Linked DNA regions of Homo sapiens. The protein of the gene in region 1 purifies or fractionates together with the protein of each later gene. This does not show direct contact. Each region holds a gene or a part of one and is shown in the gene's direction. Other genes may lie near its edges. The genes, in order: HNRNPC, SRPK1, ZC3H18 and HNRNPR.

Evidence for each region.
Region 2: the proteins of HNRNPC (region 1) and SRPK1 fractionate together in Homo sapiens (co-fractionation; 3 studies listed by BioGRID and IntAct, with this or other methods). This does not show direct contact.
Region 3: the proteins of HNRNPC (region 1) and ZC3H18 purify together in Homo sapiens (affinity purification with mass spectrometry; 2 studies listed by BioGRID and IntAct, with this or other methods). This does not show direct contact.
Region 4: the proteins of HNRNPC (region 1) and HNRNPR purify together in Homo sapiens (affinity purification with mass spectrometry; 3 studies listed by BioGRID and IntAct, with this or other methods). This does not show direct contact.

What each region holds. Positions count from the first base shown.
Region 1 is NC_000014.9:21,210,437-21,217,459, reverse strand, and holds part of HNRNPC (heterogeneous nuclear ribonucleoproteins C1/C2), read left to right. Parts: intron 1-4,342; coding exon 4,343-4,500; intron 4,501-5,536; coding exon 5,537-5,650; intron 5,651-5,893; coding exon 5,894-6,054; intron 6,055-6,153; coding exon 6,154-6,237; 3' UTR 6,238-7,023. UniProt on the Homo sapiens protein: Binds pre-mRNA and nucleates the assembly of 40S hnRNP particles. Interacts with poly-U tracts in the 3'-UTR or 5'-UTR of mRNA and modulates the stability and the level of translation of bound mRNA molecules. Single HNRNPC tetramers bind 230-240 nucleotides.
Region 2 is NC_000006.12:35,918,099-35,926,069, reverse strand, and holds the start of SRPK1 (SRSF protein kinase 1), read left to right. Parts: upstream 1-4,971; 5' UTR 4,972-5,013; coding exon 5,014-5,026; intron 5,027-5,541; coding exon 5,542-5,602; intron 5,603-7,971. UniProt on the Homo sapiens protein: Serine/arginine-rich protein-specific kinase which specifically phosphorylates its substrates at serine residues located in regions rich in arginine/serine dipeptides, known as RS domains and is involved in the phosphorylation of SR splicing factors and the regulation of splicing.
Region 3 is NC_000016.10:88,573,399-88,580,421, forward strand, and holds part of ZC3H18 (zinc finger CCCH domain-containing protein 18), read left to right. Parts: intron 1-3,711; 5' UTR 3,712-3,725; coding exon 3,726-4,328; intron 4,329-7,023.
Region 4 is NC_000001.11:23,313,283-23,320,305, reverse strand, and holds part of HNRNPR (heterogeneous nuclear ribonucleoprotein R), read left to right. Parts: intron 1-1,608; coding exon of another isoform or gene 1,609-1,617; coding exon 1,618-1,823; intron 1,824-6,603; coding exon 6,604-6,753; intron 6,754-7,023. UniProt on the Homo sapiens protein: Component of ribonucleosomes, which are complexes of at least 20 other different heterogeneous nuclear ribonucleoproteins (hnRNP). hnRNP play an important role in processing of precursor mRNA in the nucleus.

The sequences.
Region 1 (7,023 bases):
TGGTGAATACCTTGTATAGCTCCAGTGGTGAGCAAATGAGCATACTGGTTTACCATTTAGTCGTTTTATATTTTAAATGAGTGGTGCTTGCAGTTGATAGTATCCGGGTAAACTGATGCTAGACTAAGACAGCATGTTTGTGGTGAAGTACTTGCAAATAACATTAGAAATCATTGATTTCAGTTTAGAAATAAAACACAAGCTACAAAAATTTTGCTGGTTGATTTATTTTTAAGCACAAAATCAAGAATTCCAACTATGTTACGAACATTTTGAGGCAAGGACTACTTCCTCAGATGTGAATGAGAGTCCATTTCTGCCTGAGCAGCATTCTTTGTAACTAAAAGCCCCACCGGCTGAAATATTTTGAAATATTTTTCTTCAGAAAAGTAGAGAATTTGACTCCTAATTGTGTTCATGGGACTGTTAACATAGATTCAAAACAGAACTATTACTTGCTTCATTTTGGCTATGGTCAGATGAAATAGTAGGTTTTAAAAGGAAATTCCAGTGATAGTACGGAACTAGCTAGCTAGCTAGTTTAACGGATTTATTGTTTTCGGTCACAATTTGACATATTGTTATTTAAATTTTAATGTAAACCTGTGTTAAACTTTTTTATATCAGTTTTTTTATCTACATAGTTAAGTTTGAGGCAGATGTCTGTCATCAGTTGGTAGTTCATTTAACTAGTATTTACTGGAGATAGAATGGAAAAAACTGCTCCTTTGGTTCTCTTAATTTTTGTTTTGTGACGGAGTCTTACTCTGTGATCCATGCCGGAGTGCAGTGGTGGGATCTTGACTCATTATGAACTCCGCCTGTTAGGTTCAAGCGATTGTTGTCCCTCAGCCCCCGGAGTACCTGAGATTATAGGAATGTGCCACCACACCTGGATAATTTTTTCTATTTTTAGTAGACACTGGGTTTCACCATGTTGGTCAGGCCCGTCTCCATGTCCTGGCCTCAAATGAGCCGCTCGCCTTAGCCTCCCAAAGTGCTGGGATTACAGGTGTGAGCCACCCTGTCCGGCAAAACAGATTATTTCAATCTGTTCACATTTTTAAGATGAGAATCAGCTGTGGTCCATTAAATGGTCCATGTACCAAATGATAGCTTTATTATTAATAGATTAACGTCTACTCTGGTGTAGTGTTGACATGTATTACTAGGTTTTTTGAGACCCAGGAAATGTCACTGTTTGCAGCTAATGTCTTATGGTCAGAATTTCCATTTAAGAAGCTTCCCTTTGAAAACCTCTTCTTAGTACATGTCTTGTAATGCTTTTACTTTGGAATTGGGGTAGACATTCTTTGTCTTTTTTTTTTTTTTTTTTTTTGGTGGTGGAGGAGACAAAAGTTTTTACTCTGTCGCCCAGGCTGGAGTGCAATGGCTGTCTGCAACCCCCACTTCCTTCCTGGGTTCAAGCAACTCTCGTGCCTCAGCCTCCTGCGTAGCTGGGATTACAGGTGTGCCACTGCATCCAGCTGGTGTGTTTTGTTGTTTTTTTTTTCTTTTTCTTTTCCTTTTCTTTCTTTCTTCCTTTCTTTTTTTTTTTTTTAAGACGGAGTCTTGCTCTGTCACTGAGGCTGGAGTACAGTGGAATGATCTCAGCTCACTGCAACCTCTGCCTTCCAGATTCAAGCAATTCTTCTGCCTCAGCCCTCCTGAGTAGCTGGAATTACAGGCGTGTGCCACCATGCCCGGCTAATTTTTGTATTTTTAGTATACACGGGGTTTCCCCATGTTGGTCAGGCTGGTCTCAACTCGTAACCTCATGATCCACCTGCCTCCGCCTCCCAAAATGTTGGGATTACAGGCATGAGCCTCCACACCTGGCTGGTGTATTTTGTCTTAATCTGTTCAGGTGATTAATGTCTCTAGAGTGTTTTAATTTCTTAATCTGACTAGATTTTATACCAACACCATCAAGTTTGATTATGGGTGCAGTTACAATTCTCCTAGGGTTTAGTCCTTGTTCCCCTGGTAAAAGATTTTAAACAGCCTAGCCTTAATCAGTAAGTAATCAGCTATTGTTGCCTCATCTATTGTATAGCTTTCTCATAGTGAGAATTTCCGCTTAATTTTTAGCTGGTGCTTGAAGTAGTCATACTGAGCTTCTTAATATATATCCCTTTTAACTTAAAGGTTGTCACACTATGTATGTTTTTTTTCTATTTTCACACTTACCGTCCTCAACATTTTTCGAGGCAAGGACTACTTCCTCAGATGTGAATGAGAGTCCATTTCTGCCTGAGCAGCATTCTGTGTAACTAAAAGCCTTAACTGGCTGAAATATTTTGAAATATTTTTCTTCAGAAAAGTAGAGAATTTGACTCCTAATTGTGTTCATGAGACTGTTACATAGATTCAAAACAAAACTGTATTACTTGCTTTATTTTGGCTGTGGTCAGACGAAATAGTAGGTTTTAAAAAGAAATTCCAGTGATAGTACAGAACTAGCTAGCTAGCTCATTGGTTTAGATACGGGTGCCGGTGAAGGTTTGTGGCTTAGGAGGTAGATTAGATATTTATTTCCATTGGACTGAGGCTTAAGCTCAGTTTAATGCTCATGGATATGGATAACTTATTTTGATTCACCTCCAGAAATTGTCGTTAAGCAATTTGTGTTTGTGCAAGTGTTACCATCTCTCACAAAGGATATGAGTTTCTGAACACTGATATTTTATAGTTTCTGTATCATTATACTTTGCAAGATTTTGGTCAAAAAGACCAAAAGCTTTATGTCAAAATGGGAAAGTAGTGATAATAAAAAGTTACTCAGTATCTTTTTCTTTGCATTAATTCCCATGAATGGATTAAACTAAGAGATTAACCATACTTAGGGGAAATGCAAACTTTTTTCTGTTTTCTTTTTTTTTGAGACAGTGTTGCTCTGTTCCGCATGAGTGCAGTGGTGCAGTCATGGTTCTCTCACCTCCTGGGCTCAACCTGTCTTTCCATCTCAGCTTTCCTTGCTCTTTTAATTTAGGAAAATGTTCCTGTCCATAGCCACTCCTGGGACAAGATTAAACATTGCTTTGTTGAAATAGTGTGGAAACACTTTTAAGTTAACAGAGGAGAGAATTAGCAATGAGATCTTGTAAATGTTTTCACTACAGGAAGATTGGAGATATTACAACTCAGAATAACTTGCCACTATTGTATATATATAAGAGGGAGAATCATGACAAAGGTGATTAATAATATTTTTAAAGTTCTTGACTATCACATTTGTTTTTTAAGAAATATTTGGAGTTAGAACAGTTGGTAGGTGTATTTTTATAGAGTACCTGGGCCTTTGCATTAAGTTAGTTGCATTTTTAAAAAGCTTGCAGAATTGAAGACCTTTTCATACGTTGCCATAGGTTCTTATATGGAAATGACAATGTGGAATGTAGAAAGTTTAGAACTGATGTCCATGTAAGAAGTATTTTGTTCTGTTTTGAATTTTCTCTTTACAAATGTAAGTGTACCAAGCCACTGCTTTGGTGTATCTTTATCAATCACTGGGATACTAAGTTTAAGACATTTGAAATTAAGATTTCTAATAGAAACAGCAATTAGTTGAGCAACCAGTGTTTATTGAGTGCTAAGTGTGTACTGGCCAGTGAATTTAGACATAGGTGAGTAGTGAACAAGATAGACAGTGGTCTCTGCCCTGTTGGAATTAAGCGTAAATTTAGTTAGAAATGATACTACCTGTTTTTATATGAGGTATTTTTTATCAGTAGTATTTATACCCAGCCAACACATTTTGCTATGATTCCCTCAGTTACATGAAATTGCCCTGATTTTATAGATCTGAAATTTTATATGGTTCAACCTTATATCACTAGTTGTAATAATTCGTGTGCTTCTGTGGGTGAAAAGAATCAGAGATTTCGCTAATGCCATATACCACTGTTTATATACCCTTTTAATTGGAACATTTTAAAGAGTATTTGACCGTATGTGAATTGTTTATTGTAATGTATATTTGAAAATAATAAGATCCAAAGGCTATTCATTATAATAAATGCCCTGTTAATACTGACACTAGTACAGAGGAATCATTTATATCCAGTGCCAAAGGCCAGCCAACCATATAATTTGATATATGTTTTATTTTCCTGAGGAAAAGTTGCTACAGTATTACAACTATTTTATGTGCCTAGGTAAAGAAATAATGGGATAAGATTTCTAAACCCCACTGTGGAGGTTTTTGCTGGCCTTCTTAATGAAATTTAATAAAAGGAAACGACTAGAGACAATATTCACTTACTATTTATCATAAGGTCTGTTGAATTGTGCTGAGTTAATGTTAGGTTTGAATGAATTCCATTTTCCTCTTATCCAATAGGATGTACAGTTACCCAGCACGTGTACCTCCTCCTCCTCCTATTGCTCGGGCTGTAGTGCCCTCGAAACGTCAGCGTGTATCAGGAAACACTTCACGAAGGGGCAAAAGTGGCTTCAATTCTAAGAGTGGACAGCGGGGATCTTCCAAGTCTGGAAAGTGTATGTATTATTTCATTTTGTGATTTTGGTATCTCTTGTGTTTTGAGATAGGGAAGCTAATGCAGTTACAATATTTTTGTGCCACATGACTTTGTGTATTCAAAATAATGGAAGAGGCTGGGTGTGTGGTGGCTCATGCCTGTAATCCCAGCACTTTGGGAGGCCCAGCGGGTGGATCAGCTGAGGTCAGGAGTTCAAGACCAGCCTGTCCAACATGGAGGAACCCCATCTCTACCGAAAATACAAAAAATTTGCCGGGGATGGTGGTGCGTGCATGTAATCCCAGCTAATTGGGAGGCTGAGGCAGGAGAATCGCTTTTACCCAGGAGGCGGAGGTTGCAGTGAGCCGAGATCATGCCATTGCACTCCAGCCTGGGTGACGAGCAAAACTCCATCTCAAGAAAAAAAAAAAAATCCAAAATAACAGAGGAGACAAGATTGTGATTGAGTGGCCAATTCTAGACTGCAACAGCTAGGTAATTTAAAAAATGTCATTTGACTTTATGTAGTTGAGGTGTGCGTTAAGTTCCTGAGATTTTTTTGTGTTATTTAAAAACTAAAATTCAGACAGTGTTCAGTATGTTGATTTTTTTTAACTTTTCTATATTGAACTCCTCCTGTAACTGGAAATATGGAAGGCAGTAAAACATTACAGAAGGTCTGATGCAGTGGTGCGTGCCTGTAGCCCCAGATGCTTAGGGGGAGGCTAAGACCCTGGGGATCTAGGCTGTAGTGGGAGGATTTCATGAGGCCAGGAGTTTAAGTTCACTGTGATCATACGTGTGAATAGTCACTGTCCTCAGGCCTGGTCAACATAGCGACAGCCCTGATCTAAAAGACATTAAAAACAATAAAAACCATTACAGAACGTGCTTTATAATAGAACCAAGGGCCTTTATTACCGAGAAATCTGTACTGGCTCTGTTTCTCCCTGGGTATCTCCTGTGAGCTCCTGATGTAGTCTGGTGGCAGTGTATTTGCTAACTCATATCTTCGGTACATTTGATTTTAATCTAGTATTTTGTTTATATTAAAGTGAAAGGAGATGACCTTCAGGCCATTAAGAAGGAGCTGACCCAGATAAAACAAAAAGTGGATTCTCTCCTGGAAAACCTGGAAAAAATTGAAAAGGAACAGAGCAAACAAGCAGGTAAATGGGTTTTCTGCTTGCCCTTGGTATACAGTTGGGTTAGTTACATAAGGCACTTGAAAGTACATGTTGGAATAGTGGAATATAAAGCAATGTAATATGAAACTTGGGGAGTGTGAATTGGGAAGGGTATTTGTGTGGGAGGATTTAGATTTGTGCTGCAGTTCTGTGATCCTTAGTGGGGATTGTCTACGTCCTGTGGACATTACTGCCCCTAGACAGACTTGTCCTTCTCATCCGCAGTAGAGATGAAGAATGATAAGTCAGAAGAGGAGCAGAGCAGCAGCTCCGTGAAGAAAGATGAGACTAATGTGAAGATGGAGTCTGAGGGGGGTGCAGATGACTCTGCTGAGGAGGGGGACCTACTGGATGATGATGATAATGAAGATCGGGGGGATGACCAGGTGAAAACCACGGGAAAGGAAAGAAAAAGGTGGTGGAGGGGGGCTCAGGGACACATGGAGTGCCTCTAACTCCATCCTGTTTGTGTCTGTTTCTCACAGCTGGAGTTGATCAAGGATGATGAAAAAGAGGCTGAGGAAGGAGAGGATGACAGAGACAGCGCCAATGGCGAGGATGACTCTTAAGCACATAGTGGGGTTTAGAAATCTTATCCCATTATTTCTTTACCTAGGCGCTTGTCTAAGATCAAATTTTTCACCAGATCCTCTCCCCTAGTATCTTCAGCACATGCTCACTGTTCTCCCCATCCTTGTCCTTCCCATGTTCATTAATTCATATTGCCCCGCGCCTAGTCCCATTTTCACTTCCTTTGACGCTCCTAGTAGTTTTGTTAAGTCTTACCCTGTAATTTTTGCTTTTAATTTTGATACCTCTTTATGACTTAACAATAAAAAGGATGTATGGTTTTTATCAACTGTCTCCAAAATAATCTCTTGTTATGCAGGGAGTACAGTTCTTTTCATTCATACATAAGTTCAGTAGTTGCTTCCCTAACTGCAAAGGCAATCTCATTTAGTTGAGTAGCTCTTGAAAGCAGCTTTGAGTTAGAAGTATGTGTGTTACACCCTCACATTAGTGTGCTGTGTGGGGCAGTTCAACACAAATGTAACAATGTATTTTTGTGAATGAGAGTTGGCATGTCAAATGCATCCTCTAGAAAAATAATTAGTGTTATAGTCTTAAGATTTGTTTTCTAAAGTTGATACTGTGGGTTATTTTTGTGAACAGCCTGATGTTTGGGACCTTTTTTCCTCAAAATAAACAAGTCCTTATTAAACCAGGAATTTGGAGAAAAAAAAAACCCTGGTTTTTTATTTTTGTATTTTATTATTGTTTACTTCAAACTTTGTTTTACAGCGTCCTCCACAAAACCTCTAGAATGCACTAGATATATTTTTCTTGGAGTCATA
Region 2 (7,971 bases), on another chromosome or scaffold:
CCTGGGAGGCTGGCATGTATGGACTGCATCACCCAGGCTTCCTTGCCATTTAACTTCCAGCTGGGTTTTGTCAATGGTGAGGCACTCGTTTGAGAAGATGTGGGTCTTTATTTCCCTGCCCTCTCCCTGCAGGGCTCATTAAAGGGCACAGCTGCTGCCAGGCGGGCCTCTCTTACTACAGCTCTGTTATGGGTTGAATTTTGCCCCCCACCCAACAAAAGATATGTTGGAGTCCTAATCTCCAGTACCTCAGAATGTGTCCTTACTTGGAAACAGGGTCTTTCCAGAGGTAATCAAATTAAAATGAGGTTTTTAGGATGAAGCCCAATGCAGTATGACTGGTGTCCGTATAAAAAGGGGAAATCCCAACACAATGAGAGACAGATGCACAGGGAAGAGCATGTGGCGAGGGAGATGATGGTTACCCAGAAGGCAAGGAGAAGGGCCTGAAACACATTCTCTCTCACAGACCTCAGAAGGAACCAACCCTGCCAATACCTTGATTTCAGACTTCTAAGCCTGTGAGACAAGAATTTTCTATTGTTTAAGCTACCCAGTTTGTGGTACTTTGTTATGGCAGCCCCTGGAAAACTTTTTTTTTTTTTTTTTTGAGACAGAGTTTTGTTTTTGTTGCCCAGGCTGGAGTGCAGTGGCGCAATCTCGGCTTACTGCAACCTCTGCCTCCCAGGTTCAAGCGATTCTCCTGCCTCAGTCTCCCAAGTAGCTGGGATTACAAGCGCCCGCCACCATGCCCAGCTAATTTTTTTTTTTTTTTTTTTGTATTTTTAGTAGAGACGGGGTTTCATCATGTTGAACAGGCTGGTCTTGAACTCCTGACCTCAGGTGATCCACCCGTCTTGGCCTCCCAAAGTGCTGGGATTACAGGCGTGAGCCACCGCGTCCGGCCCCTGGCAAATTGTTAATAATAAACCTCTCCCTGGGTTCTGATAACACCTCCATCCTCTTCTCCCTTCAGGCCTAGAGATGGTAAAAACTCCAGCTGTTGCTAGTCCCTGGATGTCTAACTATCCCTTGTTTGTTTTCCTTAACACCTTTATTCCTTCATTAAATTCTCTTCAATTAGCCTTTAAATGTGCCATGTGTTTCCTGATACCCAGGCCTATAATATGTAGATTTTCCCAATATAATTCACAAAACCATGTATCCAAAAGGTAAGAGAAAGTTTTTTTGGGGTTTTCCAATTATGCAGACAGCTATTGGAAATCTTAACTCATTCAAAATAAATCATCTCATGTATTTTCACTTTCTCCTGTTGTCCATTTCATCTCGCAAGACGTAGGGGAGGCCATAAAGGGATGTGTTGCTTTGGATTTAAGTCAGATCAAAACTTTAGACAAAGCATAATAATTTGTGATAATCAAGGCAGACAATGTTGGGTATGAAGAAACGTGTGAACTCAACTTTAGACGTTCAGATTTCTAAAATGTCAAAGAAGTATTAGAGAAGATTCCAGGGAGTCTTAATAAGTAAGTTAGCTCAAAAGGGATAGGATCTTTTCAGAAATTAAATTCTGAGACTACCATGAGCAGCCAAAAATATGATGGGTTATGGTTTCCGAATACCTCTACTTTTAAAGGGACTTGCAGGAAAAAAATAGCTGATGGAGAAGGGGTATGCATGTAAGAATGAATAGCTACCACTTTTTTTGTGTCTTTCTTTTTTCCTTTTTGTGCAGAAAAGGGTCTTGCTGTATTGCCCAGGCAGGTCTCTAACTCTTAGGCTCAAGGTATCCTCCTGCCTCTGCCTCCCTAAGTGTTGGGATTACAGGCATGAGCCACTGTGCTTGGCCTACACTTTTTTTTTTTTTTTTTGCTAACACTTTTAAGAATAGTTTCTGGGGAGCCTAAGGGGGGCAGATTGTTTGAGCCCAGGAGTTCCAAACCAGCCTGGGCAATGTGGCAAAACCCCATCTCTATAAAAAACACAAAAATCAAGTGGATATGGTGGCATGTGCCTGTAGTAGTTCCAGCTACTGGGGAGGCTGAGGTGAAAAAATTGCTTGAGCCCGGGTTGCAGTGAGGAAAGATTTCGCCACTGCGCTCCTGCCTGGGTGACAGAGTGAGACCCTGTCAAAGAAAAAAAAAAATTCTGGAAAGTTAAAAGTCCAGAATAGGCCAAGCTCTGCAAACTTGGGAGAAGAAACTATTTTTAAAGTTACATTTCAAGCAAAATGCACAAAAAGGGGATGGTTGTAGAATAGGGGAAATGAACAAACGTGCTTACATGAACAGTTATAGAGGTCTTAGAAAAAGTGGAGAGCCAAAGCATGATGGAGGAATAGAGAAAAACAGATGGAAAAAAAAGAGAAATGGTCAATTCTGGGAACTCAGTCCAGTGAACTTCACATTGACTCTGGAAAAATTCTGAAAACGAGTTATTAAACAGATGGTTAGTAAGCTCTTAGAGAAGCAATAGCCTACTCAGAGTCAGGATAGGTACGACTGTATCATGCCAAGCTGAACATATTTCCTTTTTGATGGGTCTGCAATAACCAATTCAGATTTAATACAGCTCTAATATTGTCCCTCTCAGTGTTTTCTCTCTCTTTCATCCTGACATTTCTCATAAACTGCAGATCATTTATTCTTTTTTTTTTCTTTTGAGACGGAGTTTTGCTCTTGTTGCCCAGGCTGGAGTGCAGTGGTGCAATCTCGGCTCACTGCAACCTCCGCCTCCCGGGTTCAAGCGATTCTCCTGCCTCAGCCTCCCAAGTAGCTGGGATTACAGGCATGTGCCACCATGCCCGGCTACTTTTGTATTTTTAGTAGAGATGAGGTTTCACCATGTTGGCCAGGATGGTCTCGATCTCTTAACCTTGTGATCTGCCCGCCTCGGCCTCCCAAAGTGCTGGGATTACAGGCATAAGCCACTGTGCCTGGCCCATTTATTCTTTTATTAGACAAATATATGAGCACCTACTAAGTGCCTAACACTGTGTAGGCACTGAGTTTACATCAAGGAAAACCTAAGCAGGGTCTCTACACTCAAACAGTTTACTTTGGGGTGGGCAGTACTTTCCCAATTCTGGGATTTTTCCTAGCTATCAGCTCTCTCCCTGTCTTTTCTAAACCACACGCGGTTATCCTGAACTCACACAACCCTCAGAGTCTAGGGCTTCCCTGTCTGTCCTAACCTTCCTTTTGTTTTCAACTTTACAGCAGGGAATAGACTGGGCTGCATCCTTCCTTGGCCAACAGGTACTGTCTTCTTTTGCAATATACTCAGACATGCTATCATTCAGGTTCCATGCAACATATATCAATTATCTAAATTTCAAATTTGGCTAACCTGCCTTTCCAGCCTCACCTTCCATTTCATCCCTTCAGTTGTTACCAGCCCCAATCCTAGCCCCCACCTACAGGTGTCCACGTCTGTGCCTTTTTGCTCAATGTATTTTCTCATTCAGGAATGCCTGACATCTCCTTCTCCACCTATAGAAATCTTACATATTTCCTAATACCCAGCTCAAAAACTGCCTTCTCTGGATGGGCTTAATTACTTACTTTGCTCAATAAGTTCTGCCAAAGCCCCCATGCTTGACTTGTGCTGTACTATTGCCCTCTCATCTTCCCTTCTCAATTACTTGTTCAGAGCAAAGGTCTTCAGAGCTTCCACTCTGTCCAGCTGCGGTACTTTACAACATGGGTTGGTAAACTAAGATCTGAAATAAGAATAACCGTTGAAACGGTTGAAAAAAGATCAAAAGGGCCTGGCTCAGTGGCTCACACCTGTAATTCCAGCACCTTGGGAGGCTGAGGTGGGAGGATCACTTGAGCCCTGGATGTCCAGGCTGCAGTGAGCCGAGATCATGCCACTGTACTCCGGCCTAGGCAGCAGAGCAAGACTGCTCTCTCTGTCTTTCTTTAACCCTCACCTTCCCTTCAAAACCTAACAAAGACCATGTTTAAATCAATAGAAGAACATTTTATGACGTGAAAATTATATGAAATTCAAATTTCAGTGTCCATACATAAATCTTTATAGGAACACAGCCCATATTTTCTATGACTGCTTTTGAGCTCCAATGGCAGAGTTGAGTAGCTGAGAAAGAGATCTTATGGTCCACAAAGCCTAAATATTTACTGTACGGCCCAAAGAAAAACTTTGCTGAGCCTGCTATACAATAAGGGCTTCATGATTAAATAACTGGGTCGTACACCAAGATTCTGAACATATAGGCAGGCCCTCTTAAGTTTAGTGTCTTTGTGTAATGGAAGTAATAACTATTTTGCCTTTAAGTTGCCATAAACATCAAATGAGATAATGCACTTAGAAAATAAAAACAAAAAAAACTTATAAACAAGACAGCTTTATCATGTATTGAAGGTGGTAGAATAAGAAAACATTAAACGTTTTTATTCTCATTTCCCCTTCTTTCCTTTACAGCTTTCACTTAAACTTGAAATTTCAAGAGAAAATTCACTTTTGAAGTTTTTACTTTTCAAGTGATAATAGGGTCACAGGTTCTTTCCTTCCAGTCTTTTTGTGTTGCTCCCACTCCCTTTTCTTTCTCACATGTAATTTTTTTCCATTTTCTTTAAATAGTATCTCAACTGGGCTCACAATAGCTCAGGGAAGGAGAAACTGGGACATGCCTGATTAATCCATTTTACAGGCCAGGAAACTGAGGCAGATCCCAGTTGCCTCCGAAGCTCTGACTCAGCAGCATGCAGAGAGCCCTGCCGCTCTCTGCGCCTTTTCTAAACAAATAGAACAAAACTAACCTTGCCAGGTTTCCAAGCTTGGATCTCTAACACTCCTTCAACGTTCACCCCGGCGTTCCTCCCCGCTGCGCCCCCTCCCTCTCCTTGCCGCCCCCTCCTCGGGAGCAGGTGGTAGGCTCCGCGCCCAACGCGCAAGCGCGCGGCATCGTGGGGCGGGGGTGGGGCGGGACTGAGGGCGGAGTGTGAGCGGGCTCGGTTTTGGGCCGCGGCGGGAGCGGGAGTCGCCGCCACTCGAGTGCGCAGGCGCCTGGCGATTACCGGTCTCACCATGGAGCGGAAAGGTGAGCGGTGGAGCGGCCTCCGCCACGAGGGGCAATGGTCGCCGGGGCGAGGCCCGGGTCAGCGCCGGGAGCTTCGCTTAACTGCCGCGGTTCGGTTCCCGGACGTGCGGCGCCCCTCCACTGAGGTGGCGCCGCCCCACACCCCCTGCCTCTGGGCTGCGGGTCCGCGCCCCTCAGTCCGGGCGTCCTCTGGCGCCGGCCGTAGCCGCCCCTTGTTCCCCGCCAGGCCGGCTCGCGCCTTGGGGCCACTCCAGGGCCCGGCCCTTGGCGGGCGACGCAGACCCCCACCCGCCCGCCCCCTGACCCGGCCTGAGACCCCTCCGGCGCATCCCGCCCGGGCGCTGCTCTGCGCCCCGTGGGCCGCCAGCCCCACGGCCGGCCGCCTCGCCGGAGCCCGCAGCCGCCCCCGAGGCAGGCCCCGCAGCCGGGCCTGGCGCCCCTGCTGGGTCTCCACCCTCACCTTGGTCGCCTCCTTTCCTCCACATTCGCCCTTCATCCATCCCTCTCTCCTGCAGTGCTTGCGCTCCAGGCCCGAAAGAAAAGGACCAAGGCCAAGAAGGACAAAGCCCAAAGGAAGTGAGTCTTGTACCCCAACATCCCATTCTTTGGATTTTCCTCCGGCACCTTCTCTGCTCTGGTTTCACGTCTTGAACGTGCACCGGGTTTGGGCACCCTGTGGCTGCAGCCACATGGCCTCGGGGCAGCTCGGAGGGTCGCTCTCCAGCAACCATGTGGAAGAGAGCTGCTGTTGCTCAACGCCAGGCCTGGGTCTTAGCAGCCCCGGGCCTGCTGGAAAGGGCTGTCGGAGGAGGACCAGAGCCCGCCCGGTACCTTTCCTCCCCAACTCCACAGAGGAGGCACAAACTCCCCTAGCTTGGACCTCCCCACCGGAGCTGGTAGATCATTATCGGTCTGTTTCTGAACTCTGGTCTCTCTTACCTGCTCCCCAACGTCTTAACTTGCCTCCGACGTCTTCACGGTAGGCCTTAAGGAAATTCTTGAATGAATTTTTCCGTGTTTACTTTGGGTTCTACCAACCACACACTCCCTTTCATAGAGGAGGGCATGGGGCTTTTCCCTGGGTTAGTCAACTTCCTGAGCCTGTAAGGCGTATCGGCTTTTTTGCAGTGTGCCGGCAGACCGCTGTGTATACAGTCGGTGTCTGTTAACTGCTTCTCTTCTGTCTAAACCTCAACCAGATGCAGATAATCTTCCGGAGTGGACATCACAATAGTAACGGGAGAGTTCTTTAACAAACATTGATGATTCTGGTTTGGCGTATTAAGCGCCACATGTCCAGTTTTATCAGTAGGATGCATAACAGTAGTTTAGTGCTATCGTGGCAAGTTCAAAAGTTGGTCACAGCCTAGTAGAAACTCAGGTAGCAGGCTTAGCAGCAAGTGAGGCTAAGCCTTAAGAACTTTCATCATGTACTAACGTTTAATTGCAAAGGATCTTGGAAATCAGCTCTTACACACTTTGTATTCAGAGAGAGCTTGTATGCCTAGTTATTAATACATCTTAATTTTAGATGTATTATCTTTATAGTTTTACATTTATTTGATGTTTTGTGGCATCGTATGCGGTCTAATTCCCTCTGAGCTGATACAACACATTTCAAAGGCCTTCCTAGGTCACCCCACTGAATGACAATACCAGATTAGGGGGGTGTAGGGGTGTGTGTTGTTTTTGGAGGCTACCTACTGTTTGGGGAGAGCACATAATGACTTCTCTCTTTCAATAGAACTAAAGTGGTAGGTGACCTCACCTCTTGCTCCATTTTCTCTTCTGTCTTATGAAATGTATTTTGTAAGTGCTTGGTGACGAAGTCTTGTAAATGAGAGTTTGTGTGTGTCTGTTTACCTTTGGATTATCCATATATGGGATTATTCAAAACCAGTTTTTAATCCTAGATCGTTTAATAGAAACAGCAAGGTGCTAACTTGGTTCTAGTGTGCAGTAGGACTTGAAATGTTACTTTTCTGTGCCTAGTTTAGTTATTCTTTGTGGAATTGATGAGAATGTGTTAAAACGTTCTTTTCTATTGATACAAGGAAGTTGCAGTTTTTATTATATTACTCTGTATTTTTTAGAAATCCTGGTCTCTCAGACTATTTGTCCAGATCTCTCTTACCACTTAGAAATTAATTTGAGATTAGCCCAAATCAAGCTGTAATTTGAGGGGTAAATGTATATAGATGATATACTTTAAGCACCAGAAATCTGTTACTTTCGATTATCTATTTAGACCATATGCTTTATTTCTAAAGTCAGATGTGTATCTGTTACCCCATTCACTACTATGGATAACTTAGAGTTATTTGTGTTAATTGTTTGCAAGTATGGATTATAGATAATCTAGCAGTCATTTTACTGAATATTTCATCTTGAACAACTTTGAATCCTGAAAATATGCGTGAATGAACTGCCCCCATTTCCTTGTAACTTCAGAGGTGTTTTATTTTTGGATTTGTTTCCAATTAATAAGTTTTTTTTGTTTGTTTGTTTTTGAATTTACCTACCTTTTTTTTCTTTTTCTTTTTGAGGCAAAAAGAAAGCCTGTTGCCCAGGCTGCAGTGCAATGGTGCGATCTCGGCTCACTGCAACCTCCACCTACCAGATTCAAGCAATTCTCTTGCCTCAGCCCCCCAAGTAGCTGGGACTACAGGCGTGTGCCACTACGCCTGGTTAATTTTTGTATTTTTTGTAGAGAGAGAGTTTCGCCATGTTGCCCAGGCTGGTCTCGAACTCCTGAGCTCAGGTAATCCGCCTGCCTCAGCCTCCCAAAGTGCTGGGATTACAGGCATGAGCCACTGCACCTTGCTCTTTTTCTTTCTTCCTTTTTGTCTTTCTTTCTGTCTTTCTTTTCTTTTGTTTGTATCCCAGCCTCCTTTTAAGTAGCTGAAATGTCTAATTAAGTTGGTTAGAGTACTGTGTTAGAAGTT
Region 3 (7,023 bases), on another chromosome or scaffold:
CCACGCAGACTCCCAGTCTTGAACAGTCAGTGCGTAGAGGCCTTAGCAGCCTTGGTGCTTTTCATCCTTGCTTTTGTTGCCTTGGGCTGCAGAAATGCTCTGTGCATCAAGCGCCCCTGTGATACTGTTTGGGGATCAGCTCCTTGACTTTCCCATTTTCAGCAGTGTATACCAGTTTAGGACTACCTTTAATAAAAAGACGAGGGTCTTACCATGTTATCTAGGCTGGACTCGAACTCTTGGGCTCGAGTGATTCTCCCACCTCAACCACACAAGTAGCCGGGATTCCAGGTACATGCCACCACTCCTGGCTTAGGACTGACTTTTTAATAATTCCTCCCAGTAGTCCTGTCTCTGGATAGTAACCGAATAGTGTACTTAGAAAACCAAAAAGTGAATCATTTTCAGAACTGTCTGCTTTTAAGTGACTTGGAATGGATTGGTTGGTTTGTAAATCTATGTTATTGCTAACCATTTAGGTTTTTTTTTTTGAGACGGAGTTTTGCTCTTTTTGCCCATGCTGGAGAGCAATGACACAATCTTGGCTCACTGCAACCTCCGCCCCCCCGAGTTCAAGCAATTCTCCTGCCTCAGCCTCCCGAGCAGCTGGGATTACAGATGCCCACCACCATGCCCAGCTAATGTTTTGTATATTTAGTAGAGACAAGGTTTCACCATTTTGACCGGGCTTGTCCTGAACTCCTGACCTCAGGTGATCCACCCGCGTCAGTCTTCCAAAGTGCTGGGATTACAGGCGTGAGCCACCACCCTTGGCCCATTTAGTTTTTATAAAGTGATGAATTTTAAATGATTTGAATTTTCTTTTGAGACGGAGTCTCGCTTAGCCACCACCTAGGCTGGAGTGCAGTGGTGTGATCTCGGCTCACTGCAACCACTGTCTCCCAGGTTCAAGCGATTCTCTCGTCTCAGCCTCCCAAGTAGCTTGGATAACAGGCACCTGCTATCATGCCCAGCTAATTTTTGTATTTTAGTAGAGACCGGGTTTCACCATGTTGGCCAGGCTGGTCTTGAACTCCTGACTTCGGATGATCCACCTGCCTTGGCCTCCCAAAGTGCTAGGATTACAGACGCGAGCCACCACGCCTGGCCAGATTTGGGTTTTTTTGGCTTTTTTGTTTTTTGTTTGAGTCAGGGTCTCACTCTGTCACCCAGGCTGAACTGCAGCCTCAACCTCCTAGGATCAGGTGATCCTCCTATCTCAGCCTCCCAAGTAGCTGGGACGACAGGTGCCCTACCACACCCAGCTAATTTTTTTTTTTTTTTTTTTTTTTTTTGGTAGAGATGGGGTTTTGCTATGTTGCCCAAGCTGGTCTAGAACTCCTGGACTCAAGTGATCCGCCCACCTCAGCCTCCCAAAGTGCTGGGATTACAGGCATGAACCACCGCACCTGACCAATTTGTTCTAATGTATCTTTTTTTTTTTTTTTTGAGACGGAGTCTCGCTCTGTCGCCCAGGCTGGAGTGCAATGGCGCGATCTCGGCTCACTCCAAGCCCCGCCCCCTGGGTTCACGCCATTCTCCTGCCTCAGCCTCCCGAGTAGCTGGGAACACAGGCACCCGCCACCACACCCGACTAATTTTTTGTATATTTAGTAGAGACGGGGTTTCACCGTGTTAGCCAGGATGGTCTCGATCTCCTGACCTCGTGATCCACCCGCCTCGGCCTCCCAAAGTGCTGGGATTACAGGCGTGAGCCACCGTGCCCGGCCTCTAATGTGTACTTAATCTTAATGATTTCCATTAACAGCAAAAAAAAAAAATGTTTAACTGTAGGTTGATACCAATTCTTGATACTGTGCATCTTTAAACAGGTTGTATTAAAAGTATAAATTTAAAAGATGAATATTTTTATCTTTAGTGTGTATGGTTATTTGAGATACAAGACATATAAATGTGTATGTGTATGACTTGCTGCGTCCGTAGTTATCTTGAGATGAATAATCTGTTTCCAGACCTTGCCGAGATGCCGAGCAGTGTGACCGTGACATACGTTATTTTAACAGCCTCACAGACTGAACAGTCAAGTGACCGCTGACCTGGCACTGTCCCTGCTGCTCCACACTCACTTGGTGGTGACTAGCTGCCCTGGTAGTGGTGGTGTGGCAAGTGTTTGCCAGGCAGGTGTTGCCGTTCTACACCTTCCTACCCGTCTTAACACCGTCCACTTTTAAAGCATGGGTAGCAGTGTACTTTCTATGAGTTTTTGAGGAGGGAAACTCGAAAATATTAACTTTATAATTTAATCTGGATTAGTAAAAATAGGAATGAAGTCTGAAGTGACCCCGTCTTTTTTTGTTTTTTGAGTTTTTTTTGGAGATTGGTCTCACTCTGTTGCCCAGGCTGAAGCACATTGATGCAGTCTTGGCTTACTGCAGCCTCCACCTCCTGGGCTTAAGCGATCCTCCTGCGTCAGACTCCCAAGTAGCTGGGAATATAGGCACGCACCACCACACTCTGTGACTTAGTTTTTGTTTGTTTGTTTGTTTTTGTTTTTGTTTTGAGACGGAGTCTCACTCTGTCGCCCAGGCTGGAGTGCGGTGGCGCGATCTCAGCTCACTGCAAGCTCTACCTCCTGGGTTCACGCCTTTCTCCTGCCTCAGCCTCCTGAATAGCTGGGACTACAGGCGCCTGCCACCACGTGCAGCTAAGTTTTTGTATTTTTCATAGAGACGGGGTTTCACCGTGTTAGCCAGGATGGTCTCGATCTCCTGACCTCATGATCCACCTGCCTCGGGCCTCCCAAAGTGCTGGGATTACAGGTGTGAGCCACCGCGCCTGGCCTGAATTTTAGTATTTTTTTTTTACAGAGACAGGGTCTCACCATGTTGCCCAGGCTGGTCTCGAACTGCTGGGCTCAAATGATCCTCCCGTTGCAACCTCCCAAAGTGCTGAGATTGTAGATGCGAGCCACCGTACCTGGCCAGCCTCGTCTTTTACATACGCGCGGTACTTAAGTGTGTCAAGTTTCCTGCCAGAGTTCTTTTCGACAGCAGCTACCTGTATGGGAAGAGGGGTTCTCAACTTAGGAGTGTGAGTTGCTGAGCGGGTGAACACAGCCCTCTCGACACCTGCTGGAGGGGCCAGTGAACACGCAGGCAGGGCTCTGAGCCTGCATTGCTAAAGGGCAGCCAAGGGATTCTCGGAGGCCCTCAGAGGCTGGCCTTCGAGAAGTGTGTTCAGTAACAGAAAAGGCTCCAGACTTGGACACTGCCGAAGGCTGGCCCAGGTTCCTGCTTCAGGATGACTCCAGAAAAATGGTGAGATCTGGGCCTGCAGTTTTGCTTCCTCGTTCCATGATACAGTTTATCTTTAATTTCAAAAGTAAATACTCCTCTAAGAATTCACACAGCTGTCCTTTGCGATCCGTATCGTTACTCACTTTCTGTTAACTCGTGTGGGCTGCCCTTGAGCGGGGAAGGGCTAGGCCAGGCTGCGTCTCCTTCTGCCACATCTCATTTTGCCAGATTGCCAAAAACGGGAGGCACTTAACACCCAGCTTAGCTGAGCAGTCTAGCCTTGTGGAGTGGAGTTATGGCCTGTCTTTCTCTGCAGAGTGGAGTGTGGGATTTGGGGCAGGGCCGTGTGGGACCAAGCAGGATGGAAGTCCTGCTGCTTCAGGCCAGGAAAGTAGGGACAAGGTTTGTTTTCCATTTTGCTAAAGGCTGTCAATCTGTATTCTCTCTTTTGCAGAACCGTGGGTACCGATGGATGTGGCCGAGAGCCCTGAACGGGATCCTCACTCTCCAGAGGATGAAGAGCAGCCACAGGGACTCTCGGACGATGACATTCTGAGGGACAGCGGGTCCGATCAGGATTTGGACGGGGCGGGGGTGAGGGCTTCTGATCTGGAGGATGAGGAAAGTGCAGCCAGGGGGCCGAGCCAGGAGGAGGAAGATAATCACTCCGACGAGGAGGACCGGGCAAGTGAGCCTAAATCCCAAGACCAGGACTCAGAGGTGAATGAGCTGAGCCGGGGCCCGACCAGCTCCCCCTGCGAGGAGGAGGGGGACGAAGGGGAGGAAGACCGGACAAGCGACCTTAGGGATGAGGCCTCCTCAGTCACCAGGGAGCTGGATGAGCATGAGCTAGACTACGATGAGGAGGTTCCTGAGGAGCCAGCTCCCGCCGTCCAGGAGGACGAGGCTGAGAAAGCGGGGGCTGAGGATGATGAGGAGAAAGGCGAAGGCACTCCCAGGGAGGAGGGGAAGGCTGGTGTTCAGAGTGTGGGAGAAAAGGAATCCCTGGAGGCTGCCAAGGAGAAAAAGAAAGAGGACGATGATGGAGAAATCGATGATGGGGAAATAGACGTGAGTATGATGGAGCAGAGCGTCGCGGGGCATCCTGCCCAGCAGCCTGACATAGACTGGTGCTGGAAAGGAGGGACTCTGTGTGGGACTGACTTAGTGATTTGTTACTAGGGATGGTGCAGGAGAATGAGAGGCTTGTTTTGGGTTCAGTCCCATAGTGATTGGAGAGAAAGAGCCAGAAATCGAGAATGAGCAGAGGCAGCTCCAGAAGCTGCCAGCAGGGTTTCCGTGGCCCTCGGCCGGCCAGCTGGTGGGATTGTTTGGGTTGTAGTGAAAGGTCCAGCGCCCAGTGTTTTTAGGTTCTAGGAATGAAGGGTTAATGTCTGTCCTTGTCTTTGCCGTCTTCAAGTGATACTCAAGTTAACACTCAACCAGAAACCACGTGGGTTTCCACTCTTGTCAGGTTTTTGGACTGAAAAGAATGAGGAAATTTTCCATCTGGTTTTGGATGTTTTAGGCATTTTTATGCTGGTCCTAGAGCCTGACCTCTGGAGAGGGCACCAGCTGGGCCAGGCCTCTTTGGACATATCCCTGAAAAGACTGTGGTGGGCACCTCAACTTCTGACAAAGCCAGCACACTTTTTTGTACATTAAATTAATGTGGCCTTCAGGTTGAGGGGAAGGTAGTACTATCTATGATCCTAGGTATGGGTAGGTGGGGTTTTCTTAGCAGTTGATGCCGTTGGAAAAACTATGAGTGTTTCGGGAGAAACACCCCAAAGTCCTCCTGAGTGATACTTGCCGGAGCTATTGAACTCAAAGGAGGTGAGCAAGGGACAGAGCAGTTGAACTGAACTGGGTTTTTGTTGTTTTTTTTTTGAAAGATCCTGGGGAAGGGGATTGTGCTTATGGGGAGTCATTGCGGTGAAGAGTGTCTGCCGAGAGTATCTCTCTGATGTCATGCTCTGGGTTGAGGCAGGTAAAGGCTGCCAGTTAGATGTGTAACCGCCGGTTTGCCTTGAATGCCATGCTCCTTTTTTTTGAGAGAGAGAGTCTACCCTGTAACCCAGGCTGGAGTGCAGTGGCGCCATCTCAGCTCACTACAGCCTCTACCCCCAGGTTCAGGCAATTATCCTGCCTCAGCCTCCTGAGTAGCTGGGATTACAGGCGCCCGCCACCACTGGCTAATTTTTGTATTTTTCGTAGAGATGAGGTGTCGCCCTGTTGGCCAGGCTTGTTTCAAACTCCTGACCTCAGGTGATCCGGCCGTCTCAGCCTCCCACAGTGCTGGGATCACAGGCGTGAGGCACCACGCCCGGCGGGTGCCATGCTTCTCCAGTAGCATGCTGGCGTGCGTGCTCTCAATGCACGTTTGGATATGACTTTCCGGCCATCGCTGCTCTCTGTGGCACTGCTCAGTAATTTATAGGGTTTGAAGTATTGCTCATGTGACTTTACGGGACGTGTGTGCACCTGCAAGCTGAGAATTTTAGATGTTTCATCTTTCCGCAGCGAAGTGTAGGAAGTGGTCTCCTCAGCTAGTGCTTTTTGCAAGAGGAGACCTACCCCAGGGCTGGCAGAGGGAAAGGAGAGACGGTGAGATTCAGGTTCATCAGCTGGGGGAGCTGGTTGGGTTGAGGATGCCCATGAGACTGAGTTTTTGTGTCCTGGGGGTAACAGCCCTGTCTGCACCACCACTGGGAGTGCAGCAGGTCCTGCACCCAGGGCTCTGGCGTGCTCTAGTTCCTCTTAAGAGGACTGGCTGCAGACCCTCAAGTCTTGGGGGAGATTCATCAGACGGATCAAGGGTCCCCATAGTGGTCCTGAAAGGCCATGTCTGTGGAGCATACTGTGAGTTCTCAGTGCCGCACCATGGGCGCGGGCGGTGCGGTAGATGGGTCCAGCTGCTCTGGAGAATGGCCCTGGCTGCCAAGGGCCTGGACATGCTGGTTTCCCCTAGACACAGCACATGGAAGAAAAACCCCATTTGCCATTTTTGCCTACCTAGACCTTGCCTGCCCTGCCTGGCACCGTCTTGTGAGGGGACCCACAGTTGAAAACGGAGTGCTGCTGTGGAAACCCCAGCACAGCTCCCTTGGCAAACGGGGAGGCAGGTTTCTTCCACCGCACAGACTGCCTCCAGCGCCCCACATCCCCCATAGGTCTGTGCTCCTGGACACCAGCACAGGTGGACCTTGCTGTGCCACATGCTGAGTGTGACTGGGCAGGGCGGAGCAGAGCCCGCTCCTGCTGTGGGGGCAGCAGGCCTTTAACCAAGGTGGGCAGTGCTGTGAATGGTGGGTTCAGCCTCTACAAGAGCACATTTGACTTCAGGCCCCTGGGTTGCTTGCCCCAGGAGCCCCCGTGGTCTCCTCTTGTTCCCACGCCCAGCAGCGTTTCAGGCTCCTCCATCCTTTATGTGTCAACCTCAGCATTTGCGTAGGCTGTTTCTCTGTTGCCTCTGCCTCTCTGTCGTGACACAGGTTCATCTGTGTGTGTGTGTGTGTGTGTGTGTGTGTGTGTGTGTGTGTGTGTGTGTGTGTATATGTATATGTCTCTGCCTGCTGCTTCCCCTATTCCCAAGAACATGTTTCCTAAGACTGGGGGCTACCTGGCTGGTTCCCCTATCTCCCTGGGGCCTGGCACATAGTGGGCAGCCAGTCAGTAGAGGAATCCTACTTGCCCGGGGCACATTGAAGGTGAGAACCTTTGTAATGTGAAGTGGCAGTGAGTGGAAGGTCCACGCTCAAGAGCC
Region 4 (7,023 bases), on another chromosome or scaffold:
CTGCTACCACCCGCTATATTGTGTTGTCAAGTATTGTGTTGTCAACTGCTGGCACAGTTCTTTGACCTCATCACTTTATTATCTATAGCTCCTTCTGGCTTCATGATCATTTATTCATTCTTTCAGCAGGTGTTTATTAAAGTTCCTGTTAAGTGCTGGCATTGTGCTATGTGCCTGGGATACACTGATGGCTAAGAGACATATTCTCTGCTTTCATAGATCCTATATCCTGAGAAAGGAGATAAGACCAAGAATATAAAAAATAAAAATTAAAGGAATATTTAGACATTGTGATAAGACACTGAAGCAGGAAATACAGGATATTTAGCTAGAGAATAGCTACTATCCCTGTTTCCATGGTTTTGGAAGACTTTTCTGATAAGATGACATGTCAACCAGCACCTGAAGGATGAAGAGGTTGTAGCATACAAAGAGCAAAAGGAAGTGCATTCCAAGACAGCAACACGTGCCAAGGTTCCAAGGCAAGAAAGAAGTCAGTATATTACAGTAACTGAGGAGGCCAGTATTATTAAAAGGTAGAATTAGGAGTAGAGTTGTATGAAATGAAGTAGGCAGGGCTTCTGTAGGCCATGTAAGGAGTTGGGTTTTTATTGTATATATAATGAGAAGGTATTTAAAGGTTTTAAGCAGGAAATAACACCTATTTCTTGTTTATGGGATATTATTCCTAGCGCTCTGTGGATAGGGGCTTGGAGAGAAGGGGTGTGAGTGGAAGCTGATAAATTAGTTGAAGCTGTCATACTAGTACAGATACAGGATTAGACTAGGGTAATAGCAGTGGAGATAGAAAGAAGTAAATGAGTTTGGAATTGGATAGGAGAGATGAAGGAAGAAATCAAGAATGGCTAACCAATTTCTGGCTTCAGAACCAGGTGGATGGCACTGTTTATTAGATAGGAAGTCTAGGGAAGGCAGATTTTGGCCATGGTGGTTCAGTTTTGGAAAAGTTAAATTTGCAATGTCTAAGACATCAAAGAGGATACATCGGGTAAGAACGTAGGCACATCTAGAGCTTAGAGAAGTCTGGGGTAGGAAAAAAATCTAAGTATTTATAAGGGTATAGGTAACATTTAAAAGTAGGGCTAGCTGACATTATTTAGAAAGAACACATACGGAGAGATAAGGGCAAAGGACTAAGACCAGAGGAACACTAATATTTAGTGATCACTTCCATTCTTGGTAAAAATAGTAACTTTTAAGTTAGCTTCAAGGAAGATTTTTGGCCATGATTAGTTGTCAAAAGTTAGTTCTCTTGGGTTTATATTACTAATTTTGTTTTTAAGATCCTTGTTAGTGCTTTAATAAAGTCATGTTATATCAAACGCTCTAAAACATTGTAGCATGTTAAATGTCAGAATATAGTAGATTTGTTGTATATGGCTGTACCTTCAGAACCCCTAAAATTAAAAAGGAACATCAAATACTGTCCCAAACCCCATATCTAATTATGTTGATCTAATTGTCTACAAAATTAGTGACTCATGTTGAGGCTGCTTCACTTATATTTTGCTCATCGTCAAGTGGATTTAGGTCTGCCTAATCGCTAGATGTGTGGTGGATGCTTTTGGCTTATATATCTGGCTGTTGGTTTAACAGAGGGTTTGGTGGACGTTATTCTCTATCATCAACCCGATGACAAAAAGAAGAATCGGGGGTTCTGCTTCCTTGAATATGAGGATCACAAGTCAGCAGCACAAGCCAGACGCCGGCTGATGAGTGGAAAAGTAAAAGTGTGGGGAAATGTAGTTACAGTTGAATGGGCTGACCCTGTGGAAGAACCAGATCCAGAAGTCATGGCTAAGGTAAATACAGTTGCTTGGAATGGGCATAGGGTCATCATTTAAATTTTGTACTCAGAATAAAGCTCAAATATTTTGAGTTTTATGATAAATAGAAATTGTAGCTTTAGACTTCAACTGTTTGGCAAGGAGCGGCTTTAACACTAAAGTTAACAGCCTGTCTTGGTATCCAGGAATTTCCATTAACAATCCCTTTTCCTGCAGATTAAATGTGCAAAAGGAACTGAAATGAAATTCCTTCAATTAAGTAGTCCCATACACACTGGGTGTTTGTTTAGTGCTAGGCACTGTGAGGGATAGAGGTTTTTTTTTTTTTTAAAAGTCCTGAGTAAAGAGAGAAGTAATGTTTTGGAGATTATAAGTTATAATCTTCATTGACTATATTATGACTTTATTACTTGGCCATGAATTATGTTTTATTTAGATTTATAGCTAATTTTTCTTTTTTTAAGCTTTTTTTGTAGTTTTTATTTTTAAAAATATTTTATTTATTATTATTATTTTTTGAGACAGAGTCTTGCTGTGTTGCCCAGGCTGGAGTGCAGTGGTACGATCTCGGCTCACTGCAACCTCCACCTCCCAGGTTCAAGCGATTCTCCTTCCTCAGCCTCCCAAGTAGCTGGGACTACAGGCGCCTGCCACCATGCCCGGCTAAATTTTGTATTTTTAGTAGAGACAGCATTTCACCATATTGCAGGCTGGTCTCGAACTCCTAAGCTCATGATCTACCCGCCTTGGCCTCCCAAAGTGCTGGGATTAAGGCATGAGCCACCGTGCCCCGCCTCTTGTTTTTAAATGATCAGATTCCCTTAGTGTATTGTCCCCATGAAGAAAGGCAAAAGATTGTCATGTTTGCTCTTATTTGTTAGTGGCAAAATATGCATGGCAAGTCCTGTAAAGGGCCCTCAATTCCCTCCTGATTCCTGTACTTGCGTTGCCAGGATCTTAATAGTGGTGCCTTGAGTACTGGTTCTTAAGTTTTCCTTTGGGCGACTCCTGGGACACATCAGAGTTGCATTTCTTTTTTTTTGAGATGGAGTCTTGCTTTGTCCCAGGCTGGAGTGCAGTGGCGCGATCTCCACTCACGGCAAGCTCTGCCTCCTGGGTTCACGCCATTCTCCTGCCTCAGCCTCCCAAGTAGCTGGGACTACAGGTGCCCGCCACCACAGCTGGCTAATTTTTTGTATTTTTAGTAGAGACGGGGTTTCACCATGTTAGCCAGGGTGGTGTCCATCTCCTGACCCTGTGAACCGCCCGCCTCGGCCTCCCAAAGTGCTGGGGTTACAGGTGTGAGCCACTGCGCCCGGCCTCAGAGTTGCATTTCTGCTGCTTGCAATGAGCTCTTGAGCATTTTAGTTGTCTCTTCCCTTCACAGGGAGGCAGCAACTCTGAATGGCCATGAGTTAATGGTTGGATTCTTCTTGATAAGTCAGAAGTCAAGGTTTTTATTCCAGAATTTGAGGAGGCAAACCCTCGTTCTAAGTAGTTTGGAGGAGAACTCTGGTTTATACTTGTATAAAGTCTGGGTTGGCAGTGACATCTTTGGGTTAATCAGATAAGTTCTATTCAGAATGAACCAGAGAGGCTCTCAGAAGTGCTACTCAGTATCTTTTATCTCATATTCCTTGAGTAGATGGGTGTCTAGGAAAGGGATAGAGAATTTAAATAGCTCTGAGTTTTTATTTTGATTTTTTACTAGCTTGATTTTAATTCCTATTGTTTCTTCTCCTAATACAACTATGACTTTGGGTAAACTACTGAACATGAATGTCATCTATTTTATTGAGCCTGGATCAATCTCTAAGATCCACCACAACTTTGAATCTACCTGTAGTAACTAAGTATAGCCTGTATTACTTTTTCTGTAAAAATATTTTAAAATAGTATTATAGATGTATTATAATAGAGGAATAAAATATTATAAAAGAGGAATAAAATCCCATGAAAACCAAAAGTATAGCTTGTAATTTGCTTACCAGCCACTTCTCACATAACCTTTAGTAACTGCTCAGATGGAAGTTCATCCTAATCTTTTTTTAGGGTTAGAAAACTTCAAGATTTCATTCTGGTAACTCCTTTTTCCTAGATCTAAAACAGGTTTCAGAATGAAAAGGAGGTCTCTATAAACTTAGGATTAAATATTATGGAGCCCTTTATTGTTTCTTTTTTTTAAAAGATGGGGTCTCATGTTGCCCAGGCTGGAGTGCAGTAGCTGCCCACATGTGCAGTCATAGCACACTGCAGCCTTGAACTCCTGGGCTTAAGCGTCCCTCCTGCTTCAGCCTCCCGGGTGCTTGCAACCCCATCCAGCTCCTTTATTGTTTCCTAATTGAAAAGAAAAGTTTATCCATTTGAGTAAAGCTTCTGTTATTCACACTATCAATTTACAATTCACTGAAGATTTTTTTTGCCAAGTTGGGTCAGTTTTACAATGTACCATAACCTAAAAGCCTAAATATATGTCTCTTAAAGGGACCCTTTTTCCTGTTGAACATTTTAAACACAATTTCAGTAAGTAATTTTCACATAGTATGTTATCGTTTCATCATAGAAAAGTCCATGTTGAATTTTTTTTAAAAAGCAACTAAACCAGTGGGAGTCTGTGTAACATAGAGGCTGGACCTTAGTATGACAAATTGAGAATAATAAAGGGGATGGAGCGTTTGTGGAAAATGTTAGTTTTTTTCCTCCTTAAATTAGTATCTTCTTATTAGATAGCCCTTTATCTGAAGCAACAATTTGTTCAATATGTTAGTTTTTTATTTGGATAGGTACTATGTTTTCTTAGTTCAAAAGTTATATAGAAAAGTATAGACAAAGAAATTTCCTTTCTACCCCTATCCCTGTGTCTACCAAATCCCCTTTGTCTCCTATAAGGCATCCAGTTTTAATAGTTGCTGGTTTCCTTTTAGTATTTCCTTCGGCAAATATGGATATACTTCCTTAATTCTTAGATGAGTGGTAGTAATGTTGGTAGCCTACCATATCCACTGATCTACCTTTTGTTTATTCACCATCCTGTTTCATCAGCTCTGAGGAAATACATCATTACTATATGTACTACTAAATAGTTAAAAAACACTGCCAACTAAACTATGGCACAGTACTTGCTTATCACATTGACTGTAAGTTGTCCTATCCTACAACTCATAGAGCTCCTCTTCATTTTTTGGGTTTTTGTTTTTTTTTTTTTTTTTTTTTTTTTTGAGACGGAGCCTTGCTCTGTCACCCAGGCTGGAGTGCAGTGGTGTAATCTTGGCTCACTGCAGCCTCTGCCTCCCGGGTTCAAGTGATTCTCCTGCCTCAGCTTCCCGAGTAGCTGGGGTTATAGGTGCCTCCTACCACGCCCGGCTAATTTTTGTATTTTTAGTAGAGACAGGGTTTCACCATGCTGGCCAGGCTGGTCTTGAACTCCCAACCTCAGGTGATCTGCCCACCTCGGCCTCCCAAAGTGCTGGGATTACAGGCGTGAGCCACCGCGCCCAGCCCTCTTCTTCATTTTTTATGACTACATAGTAGTCTATTCTGTGGAGGTACTATAGTGTATTTAACCAGCTGGATATTGTTTCTAATCTTTTGCTCTTACAGTGCTGGAAGGAATAAGCTTATGTTAGTTGATACAAGTGGAGATATATCTGTAGGATAGATTCTTAGGGGTAGAATTGTGGGCCAAAGGGTAGATATATCTGTAATTGTTAAGATACTGCCATATTCCTTTCTGTAGGAGATACACTATTTTACATTCCTACCAGCAAAATACAAGAGAATTATTTTCCTCATTCTTGACAAAATAGTGTATAATCAAACTTTTGAATTTTGCCAGCCTGATAACAAATGTCTCAGTGCCATTAATGATTAATGATTTGCTTCTCTTACTATGAATGGTTTGAACTTTAAATATATTTTAAGAGCCATATGTGTTTCTGTGTATGAACCATGTATTCAGGAATTTTGCCTATTTTTCTATTCAGTTGTTGAGCTTTTTGTTATTTTCTGGTGCTCTGATATAAAAGAGAGATTAGCTGTTTGTGATACATGTTGCAAATTTTTCATCCATATTTATTGTCTTTGCTTATAGTATTTTTTTGCCATATAGAAGTCATTTATTTTTAGTAGTTGAGTATAACATTCTTATGGCTCCTAGATTTTAAGTCATAAGGTCATCCCCACTCCAGTGTTATATAAAGGAATCATTCTTGTTCTAAAATTTCACAGTCCTCCCTCCACCCTTTTATTATTTAAATTTTCAATCTATTTGGAGTTTATCCTTGTGTATAGTGTAAGGCATGGACCAGCTTTTCTCCTTTTTTTCTAATTTAACACTACCTGATTTAATGATTTAAGCATTATAGTTTGTTTATATTTGGTAGGGCCAGCCTCTAAATTTCACTCTTTTTTTTCCTGGTTATTCTTGCTTATTTATTTTTTCATATGAACTTTTGAAAGTTACTCAGTTTTAGAGGAAAGAAACAGAAAAACTTGTTTTGAAAGGGACTTTTTGTTGATTAACTTGGTAATAATAATTATGTGTTGGTTCCTTGAAGGTTCTACTCAGTGTTAGGTGCTTTAATGACAACATAGGAGAAGGCAGGAACCAATAATTTTTGTAAATTGGTGACTGATATCAGTGTCATTTTCCTAGCAATTTCTCTTACTACCTGTAACAACACTTTTAGCACTTAATGTTTTAGAGGAGAAAAGCTATGCTATGAAGACAGGAAGAAACACTTTTCAGGTAAAATTAAGTAGCCAATGACGGTTTTGTTTATTTGTTGCTTACTAGGTAAAAGTTTTGTTTGTGAGAAACTTGGCTACTACGGTGACAGAAGAAATATTGGAAAAGTCATTTTCTGAATTTGGAAAACTCGAAAGAGTAAAGAAGTTGAAAGATTATGCATTTGTTCATTTTGAAGACAGAGGAGCAGCTGTTAAGGTAGGAATTTTGAAATTTTGGTTCTTGATATTTGAATTTTGTTTTTGAAACTTGCCAAACACAAAGTAACTTTAAAAACTGAAACAATATTGGTTGTCAGCTTTTGCTGAACTCTTTCTATTTAATCTCTGTAAAGTGGTAATAGTATGTAACAGATAAGACTCCATATTTCAAAGCCAGGTTATTACTGAGTTTGTGATCTTAGGCAAGTTATTTTTAATCTCTGTATTGTTTTGTAAGATTCGATAGCATGATGCCTTGGAAGTATTA